3 separate regions of the Homo sapiens genome follow, and regions 2 and 3 are each linked to region 1. The links come from fine-mapping of genetic effects on gene expression. A gene starts in region 1. Each other region holds a variant in brackets. All regions are shown on one strand. Distances are from middle to middle.

Region 1 (2,761 bases):
TTCTAAAAACAGGACATGCATTCTGCCTCAGTCTTCCATTCCCATGGTCTCACCCTGGACCTTGGCATCATCAGAAACTCAGAAGCTGGGACATTTCAATTCCAAATATCCCACTCAGACCAGCAGCATCCATACTGCCAGAGCACTTGCTCATATACCCCACTGCAATCTTTCTTGGGCCAATGCTCTAAGACATTGGTCCCTTTCCCCACCACCCTCCAACCCCTCCACTACCAGGCTTCATGTGCCATTATTTGCTTTCCTGTATGGTTTTGATTCTACACACAGCATCATGAACATTCTCTTCCAAACACTCTCATCACTTGGCCCCCTCTCTCTGTTGTACTTGCCAGGCAAAATCCCAACCCTCAGTAAATGCAACAAGCTGCCTTCTCTGCCTGTGCCTGAATGGCCAAACATCTTCAATTATTTTGAATCCGTTACCTCAAATATCAAATGAGCTCTTAACGTTGGCCAGAAGGCCTTTTAAAGGCCTGTATGCACCAAGGCTCAGTTCTTGAACGTCTCCTTTTCTTCTCCCTTAAGATTCTTCCCTAATGAAGGGGGCAGGCGAACGGAGTTAAAGGGCTTCCATTGCTGTTAGAATACAGCCCAAATTCCTTTCCATAATCAAAAGTCCTGATCTGCCACCGACCTCACTTTCTCAACTTTTCACCTTCCATTCTCCCCTCATTTGACTCAGCCCTGGTCTCACTGTCACTGGCCTTTTTTCCTTTTTTTTTTTTGAAGCAGTCTCATTGTCACCTAGGCAGGAGTGCAGTGGTGCTATTACGGCTCCTAGGCTCAAGTGAACATCCCAGTAGCTGGGATCACAGGCACGGGTCACGGTGCCCGGCTTTTAAATTTTTGGTCGAGACGGGGTCTCGTCATGTTGTCCAGGCTGGTCTCGAACTCCTGGGCTCAAGCCATCCTCCTGCCTCAGCCTCCCAAAATGCTGGGATTACAGGCGTGAGCCACCGCGCCCAGCCAGGCCTTCCTTCAATTGCTTTAACATGCCAAACCAACTTAGATTTTTTGCACATGCTTTTCTCTGTGGGACACTCTATCCTGGTGTTTGCCTGGTTTCGCTCTTTTCTATCCTTTTGTCTTGGCTTGAATGTCACCTCTTCTGAAGCCTTCTCTGGCGACCCTGGCCATCTTATGTCCTACTTGTTATTTCTTCAAAATCGTACTGCCTTTTGTATGTACTGGTGTTTACTCATTCACACTGGCTACCTCCCCATACCTCACTGGCTGGAATGGAAACTCATTGCGAGCAGAGACAATAGGTTTTGCTCTCCCGCGGATCACGTCCCAGCCTCCAGCTCAGCACCAGACACTTGAGGGCGCAGGATAAAATATCTGCAGTCAGAAAGCACTAATAACCACCCAAGGGTTGGAGGAAAGCTGGCGCGGACCGCACGAGTGTCGCCGAGACGCCGCCGCCGTGCGAAGCTCCTCCCCTTCCGACAGGGCCGCGGACGCCCGGGCAGCCACGGCGGCGGGGCCGCGGCGGGCGCCGGCTCAGCCCGCCCCTTTCTCCCGCCGCCTCCCCGCCCCGCCCCGCGCCGCGCCGGCCGCTGTCAGCTCCCTCAGCGTCCGGCCGAGGCGCGGTGTATGCTGAGCCGCTGCCGCAGCGGGCTGCTCCACGTCCTGGGCCTTAGCTTCCTGCTGCAGACCCGCCGGCCGATTCTCCTCTGCTCTCCACGTCTCATGAAGCCGCTGGTCGTGTTCGTCCTCGGCGGCCCCGGCGCCGGCAAGGGGACCCAGTGCGCCCGCATCGTCGAGGTGAGGCCCGGGCAGCAGGCGGGCTCCTTGGGGCTTGACGGGATGCGGGCCGGCCTGTCCCGCCGCCCCTAGTCCGCGCCCCGCGGAGTCGCCGAGCCGCAGACTACGAGTCCCGGCGGCCACCGCGCCGCCCGCGTGGCAGTGGCCGAGGGCCGCCGGCGCGCGGCGTGCCGGGACTTGTAGTCCGCGCCCGCCCGCCTTGGGGGCCACCGCTTGAGGTCGCTTTGTTCCTGCGCCCCTTCTTTTCTTACATTTTGGGGACCAGATTCGTCTCTAGAGTGGGCTGGGAGAGGGATCCCGGAGGCCAACCTTTGGGGGTCCCCCAGCGCGCAGAGGTTAGCGTGTCGCTGATCGTGTGGCAGGTGAAGGCAGCAGGAGCGCGGATTTGGGTTAGAGGCCGTGTGCGCCCACAGTTGTCTGAAGGAGAGACCTATTTTTCTTCTCCGCGCCTTCCCTCTGGTTCCCTAAACTCCGCACTGTCACCGAACGTGTCTTTACTCTAGAAAGGAGGCCCGTGGGGCGGGGTGTTATTTTAGGCGTGCTGTGGGCTGCCGCTGGCACTCTCGAGCCCCGTCCCCGCAAGCTTTAGGGCGGAGCCAGCCCTGAGGCTCGGCCCGGGTCGGGGATGGGGAAAGCCGGGAGTGCTGTTCTGAGATCAAGCTTCAACCTTTGGCCCTGCTGCCAACTCACGCTCGGCCCTCGGTCACTTCCTGTCTCCCAGCCTCAGTTAGCCCTTGTAATACAGTAAAAAGAGTCTCTGAACCCAGATTTTCTCAGGATATAAAACACCTCCCAAATGTAAAATGCTGTTACTTTTTTTTCTTTTGCTTTGAGACAGGTTACCAGTTCAATTCTTTTAACAATTTTTGAGCTAGATGTATGGTTGGTTAGCTGCATTGACACTGTGGGAAAAAAAGGCTTCATGGACAATCTGGGGAATGCTTGGGAAAGAAGGAAAACAGGATATCTAGAA
Region 2 (2,761 bases), 50 kb after region 1:
CCTAAGTTGTTTATTAGTTTTATCAAGAAGGATTTTCACAAATGGCTCCAAAACAGCTGCCAACACTTGGCCAGTCTAGTAGGTATGATTGTGAAGAGACTGCATCAAAACGTCCTTGACAAAATGTCACACTGTTTTCTTTTTAATTAACCAGGTGCACAATAAGCACTACCATTGTTCTATCCTCAGCTGGGATAATAGTCAAATGATACATTATTTACATGATTTGGAGGGGAAAATGCTGAAGTATAAAGACTCATTTTTTAGGGGCTGGGTGTGGTGGCTCACGCCTGTAATCCCAGCACTTTGGGAGGCTGAGGCCCGCAGATCACTTGAGGTCAGGAGTTTGAGACCAGCCTGGCCAACATGGTGAAACCCCGTCTCTACTAAAAATACATAAAATTAGCCGGGCATGGTGGCGTGCACCTGTAGTCCCAGCTACTCAGGAGGCTGAGGCAGGAGAATCACTTGAGCCTGGGAGGTGGAGGTTGCAGTGAGCCGAGATCATGCCACTGCACTCCAGCTTGGGCGACAGATCAAGACTCCGCCTCTAAATAAATAAATAAATAAAGACTAATTTTTTATTAGTCTTTAAACATTAAAATGAACAAGTTGAAACAGCTACATCAAAATCCCCCTGGTTCCAAAATAACTGTCAGAATGTCTATGTCATATTCAGTATCAAAGATGATTGAGCAGAGACTGTATCTATATTCCTTCCTTCCTTTCTCTGTTTAAGGCCTTTACTTAGGTCTGGATAAGTGCTGTCTGGGGAAAGAAGATAACTCCTGGACTTGCACTGCTGCTACTGTGTGCAAATGGAAATTCTGAAATGCAGGGGATGTGATGGGATGAGAGTAAAACCATTTGTATAGAGAAGCAGGATTTTGTTCCATCTAGTTCTACTTTATACGTGATGTTTCTTTTTTATTGTTCTTTTCTTTTCTTTTCTTTTTTTTTTTTTTTAAATGGTAGCAGCAGAGGAGGAGACACACAGCTCAGCCACCAGCCACAGGGGACATGATGGTTCTTGCTGGAACTTTTTTATTCTATCAATAATCACTCCCACAAAACACTGTGTCTTAATCTGTTCAAAAGTCTTCAGGTTCACAGGCCACACTCGCACTTCTCTCCACGAGTATTTTGTTGATGAAAATGGGATTAAGGAATGTGATTTCCTTAACACCATCTATCTTCATTTATCTTTAACTTGTGGTTTCAGTAATTTTGTGGCTATTTCTGAGTTTTGTTTATGTATTTGACTTAAGAAAGTAGCTGTTTATAGTCAGCAGCCAAATCATTGTTTTATATGACACAGATTATGGCTAGTTGGTGAAATAATAGCTAGGTACACATAGGAGGTATTACCACAGTCTGTAATCACATTCATGCAAGGGTCTGTCATTTTAATTTAGCTAACTGGTCACTAGCAAGCCAATTTTCAGAGATGCTGACCCCTGTGACTGGAATCAGATTTGTTGCAGGTAGTCCACATCTGCCTTAGGCCACGTGACTGTCACTGGACCAAGGGATGACA[A/G]TAGCACCAAAATAATCACATTACAAAATTTGGCTGGCCATTCATTCAAAATATGTTTGAGACATTGCGGATACAACAGTCAGTTAATGTACAACCACTACCCTCAACAGGCTTACTAGATAAGCTCAAATCCAGTGGTTTCTTAGCTGATTGTGTTTCTGTGTAGTGCTTTCATTGCTGGCAAACTTTTTTACCTCTGTGATTTTGTTTTCTTTTCCCAGCAATTCTGAGGCAGGTTGGAATGGTGATTTTCCTGTTTCAAGGATGATTAAACTGAGGCCCAAAGAGTTCAAGTCAATTGCCACAATCTTTATGCTAGAGAGTGGTGGGTTTGGAACTAGAACCCAGACCTCTGGGCCTTAAAGATCTGCCTCCCAGGTTGGGTGCGGTGTCTCATGCCTGTAATCCCAGCACTTTGGGAGGCTGAAGAGAGCAGATCACCTGAGGTCAGGAGTTTGAGACCAGCCTGGCCAACATGGTGAAACCCCATCTCTACTAAAAATAGAAAAATTAGCTGGGCATGGTGGCGTGCGCCTGTAATCTTAGCTACTTGGGAGGCTGAGGCAGGAGAATTGGTTGAACCTGGGAGGTGGAGGTTGCAGTGAGCCAAGATTGCGCCACTGCACTCCTACCTGAGATGGAGACTCTGTATCAAAAAAAAAAAAAAGATCTGCCTCCTGTCCAGTAGCCCCTGCTGCCTATCTGTAATAAGGCAATGTGACCTCTAATATACCCCCCGTGCTTCCCATCACTAGTCTATTACCCTTGTTTATTTTCTCAGTGCATATATCACCATGTGAAGTTACTTTTACTTATTGTTGATTTCCCCTCTAGATTTTAAGTGCCAGAAGAGCACTTACCTTGTTTATTCCTGTTTTCCAATACCTAGACCAGTGCCTGCACATAGTAGGCACTCAATATTTGTTGAAAAAATAAACTGAAATGGAAAAATATTTTTGGCAGTAGCTGTAGCTACAAGTTATATCACTGAATTTTGGATCCCAGTAGAGTCTGCTTGTGACCTCTTAGGATTCTATTTTCGTTCCCCCTGAAGATTGGGAGCTGATAATCGTAAAGTACTGGGACCCCATCAGCTTCCCTCTGTTTTCAGTACACAACTCATGAAAAGACTTACAATGTGACTATCTTGGAGAAAAAAAAAGAAAGGGATAAGAAAACAATGTTTGGGCGAAAAATCTCACCCACTCATCCATAGTTCAATCT
Region 3 (2,761 bases), 53 kb after region 1:
GTATCCTGTGATACTCCAGAACCACTATGTTACTATGTAGCAGGATTTCATTCAGTATGCTGAGCATTTGTTGAATGTCTTTTTAACCATATTTAAAACAAGAACCAATGCCTCAGGCCCTGCCCCCAGAAATTCTAATTTAATTACTTTTATTTTATTTTATTTTATTTTTGAGACAGAGTCTCACTCTGTCATTCGGGCTGGAGTACAGTGGTGCAGTCTTGGTTCACTGCAACCTCTGCCTCCCAGGTTTAAGTGATTCTGCCTCAGCCTCCCAAGTAGCTGGGACTACAGGCACATGCCACCACACCTGGATAATTTTTGTATTTTTAGTAGAGGTGGGGTTTCACCATGTTGGCCAGGCTGGTCTCGAACTCCTGACTTCAAGTGATCCCCCTGCCTTTGCCTCCCAAAGTGCTGGGATTGAAGGCATGAACCACCGCGCCTGGCCTCTTATTTATTTATTTATTTATTTAGAGCCAGAGTCTCGCTCTGTTGCCAGGCTGGAGTGCAGTGGCGCGATCTTGGCTCACTGCAACCTCTGCCTCCCGGGTTCGAGCGATTCTCCTGCCTCAGCCTCCCGAGTAGCTGCGACTACAGGCATGTGGCCCCACGCCCAGCTAATTTTTGTATTTTTAGTAGAGACGGGCTTCACCATGTTGGCCAGGATGGTCTCGATCTCTTGACCTCATGATCCGCCTGCCTCGGCCTCCCAAAGTGCTGGGATTATAGGCGTGAGCCACGCTCCCAGCCCTGCATTTCTTTTATGTGTAAAGTGATACTGATATTGATACTTTGAGAACCACCACAGTAAACAAAGTGATCAGAGCAGATAATGAAAACTCACAGCCTTGTATCTTTGTGGGCAAGGGATCAAGTCTTGGTCTTTTTGATGCATTCGCTCATAAGTTCAACTTGGTCTTTTTGATGCATTCACTCATAAGTTCATCGCAGCACTATACACAATAGCAAAGACATGGAATCAAGTCAGGTGCCCTTCAGCGGTGGACTGGATAAAGAAAATGTGGTACATATACACCCTGGAATACTATGCAGCCATAAAGAAAACCCAAAAGTATGCCCTTTGCAGCAACATGGATAAAGCTGGAGGCCATTATCCTAAGCGAATTAATACAGGAACAAAAGTAAATATATGTTCTCACTTAAAAGTGGGAGCTAAGCATTGGGTACGCATGGACACAAAGATGGGAACAATAGACACTGGGGGCTGCAAAAGAGTGAGAGGCAAGGAAAAACTACCTATTGGGAATTATGCTCACTACCTGGGTGACAAGATCAATTGTACCCCATACCTCAGCATCATGCAATATAACCATTAAGAGACCTGCACATGTATTCCCTGAATTTAAAATAAAAGTTGAAAAAAAAAAAGTCTTGGTCTTTTTATCCACAGTGTCTAGCACAGAGTAGGTACTTAGTGTTGATGAATTGACAGTTGGTGACAAACCATAGTGAAAGCTCACAAATTAAACAGCTGCTTAGTCTGCTGCCATTCCTGAGCTCACAGAGTGAGAGGGAAGTACTGCATGCAACAGTATCACAAATGCTCTCCCACTAAGGGAGTTGTCACATGGATGGCAGCTTGGCATAGTGGGCTTTCTATAATCTTACTTAGCAGCTGCCACTGTCTTAAAAGGTGAGGAGAGGCTGGGCACGGTGGCTCATATCTGTAATCCCAGCACTTTGGGAGGCCGAGG[C/T]AGGTGGATCACTTGAGGTCAGGTGTTCCAGACCAACCTGGCCAACATGGTGAAACCCCGTCTCTACTAAAAATACAAAACATTAACCAGGCATGGTGACTAGTGCTTGTAGTCCCAGCTACTTAGGAGGCTGAGGCAGGAGAATTGCTTGAACCCAGGAGGTGGAAGCTGCAGTGAGCCAAGATTACACCACTGTACTCCAGCCTGGTGACAGAGTGAGACTCCATATCAAAACCAAAAACAAAATGGTGAGGAGAGGCCAGGGGACTACCACCACTGTCTACAATCCTCTGAAGGGAGATGGAGTACATGTATTCAATGTGGGCTTGAGGGCAGAACTAGGGCAGTGGAAACAACATAAGGAAGACCGTCTAAGGTCAGAGCCACCCAACACTGAATTGGAGCGCCTGAGGACATGATCACCGTCCCTGGAAGTGTGCACGCAGGCCCTGGATGCTTATTTGGCAGAATGCTTTAGTCTTTCACTCTGGAGATTCTGTGGTTTGGGGATCATCTTCTTCAAGTAGGTATCTAAGTCTGAAGTCCACCTGGAATTCCAGACATACTCTCTGACACATAAGAGTTCCCTGTATATACAAGTGGGGAGGAAAGGCTAAGGGGCATCATGAGGATCTGTGCCTTACCATAAGAACCCAAATGCTGAGAAGTTTCCCTAAGCCTCTGTTTCTGCCTCCCACCCCCTCCCTGGGTGTCCTCCCCAGTGCCTGGGATAAGTGCTTAACAAAGTTTACTGGCATTAATGCTGTTGGTGGGCAGGAGGTGCCCAGTTTGCATTGGAAAAGAGAGAAACAGCAGTAGCAAAAAGATAGCAGTGAGGGACAGGAGAGACCCACTTAGCTGGAGGGGGTGAGGGTCCATGCACCAAATAATGGGAGATAGGAGTATGCAAAGATAAAGCGATAAACCTTTCATAACAGGTAAAGGAAGGTGAATTTTATCCAGTGTCTGTTTAGCTGAGTCCAGACTAGGAAGCTGGGCTGCATGAGTCAGTTTGACAAGGGCTTTTTAGATTTAGGAGGCTG

Which allele goes with the higher level. Positions count from the first base shown, and alleles are read on the strand shown. Sizes are in standard deviations (SD) of each study's normalised expression. Not every link is listed here.
For the expression in thyroid of the gene that starts at base 1,462 in region 1, T is the high allele of the variant in region 3 and C is the other (small effect, 0.16 SD a copy in GTEx).

Evidence for each region. PIP is the estimated chance that this variant, and not a neighbour inherited with it, causes the effect.
Region 2: its variant is fine-mapped to the expression of CMPK1 in whole blood (INTERVAL, PIP 0.97).
Region 3: its variant is fine-mapped to the expression of CMPK1 in thyroid (GTEx, PIP 0.98).

What each region holds. Positions count from the first base shown.
Region 1 is chr1:47,332,329-47,335,089 of GRCh38, forward strand. CMPK1 (cytidine/uridine monophosphate kinase 1) reads left to right here and starts at 1,462. Exons shown (of 6, transcript NM_016308.3): 1 at 1,462-1,788. The coding sequence starts at 1,618. RefSeq lists a silencer at 1,375-2,014 and enhancers at 1,401-2,204, 2,205-2,761, 2,525-2,584.
Region 2 is chr1:47,381,831-47,384,591 of GRCh38, forward strand. The region is part of intron 4 of LINC01389 (long intergenic non-protein coding RNA 1389); the gene reads right to left. Among named protein-coding and RNA genes, the nearest start is that of FOXE3, 33 kb to the right of the region's middle. The variant A/G (reference allele first, on the strand shown) is at 1,538.
Region 3 is chr1:47,385,401-47,388,161 of GRCh38, forward strand. It overlaps LINC01389 (long intergenic non-protein coding RNA 1389), which reads right to left. Exons shown (of 5, transcript NR_126355.1): 4 at 848-956. Among named protein-coding and RNA genes, the nearest start is that of FOXE3, 30 kb to the right of the region's middle. RefSeq lists a silencer at 2,557-2,761. The variant C/T (reference allele first, on the strand shown) is at 1,719.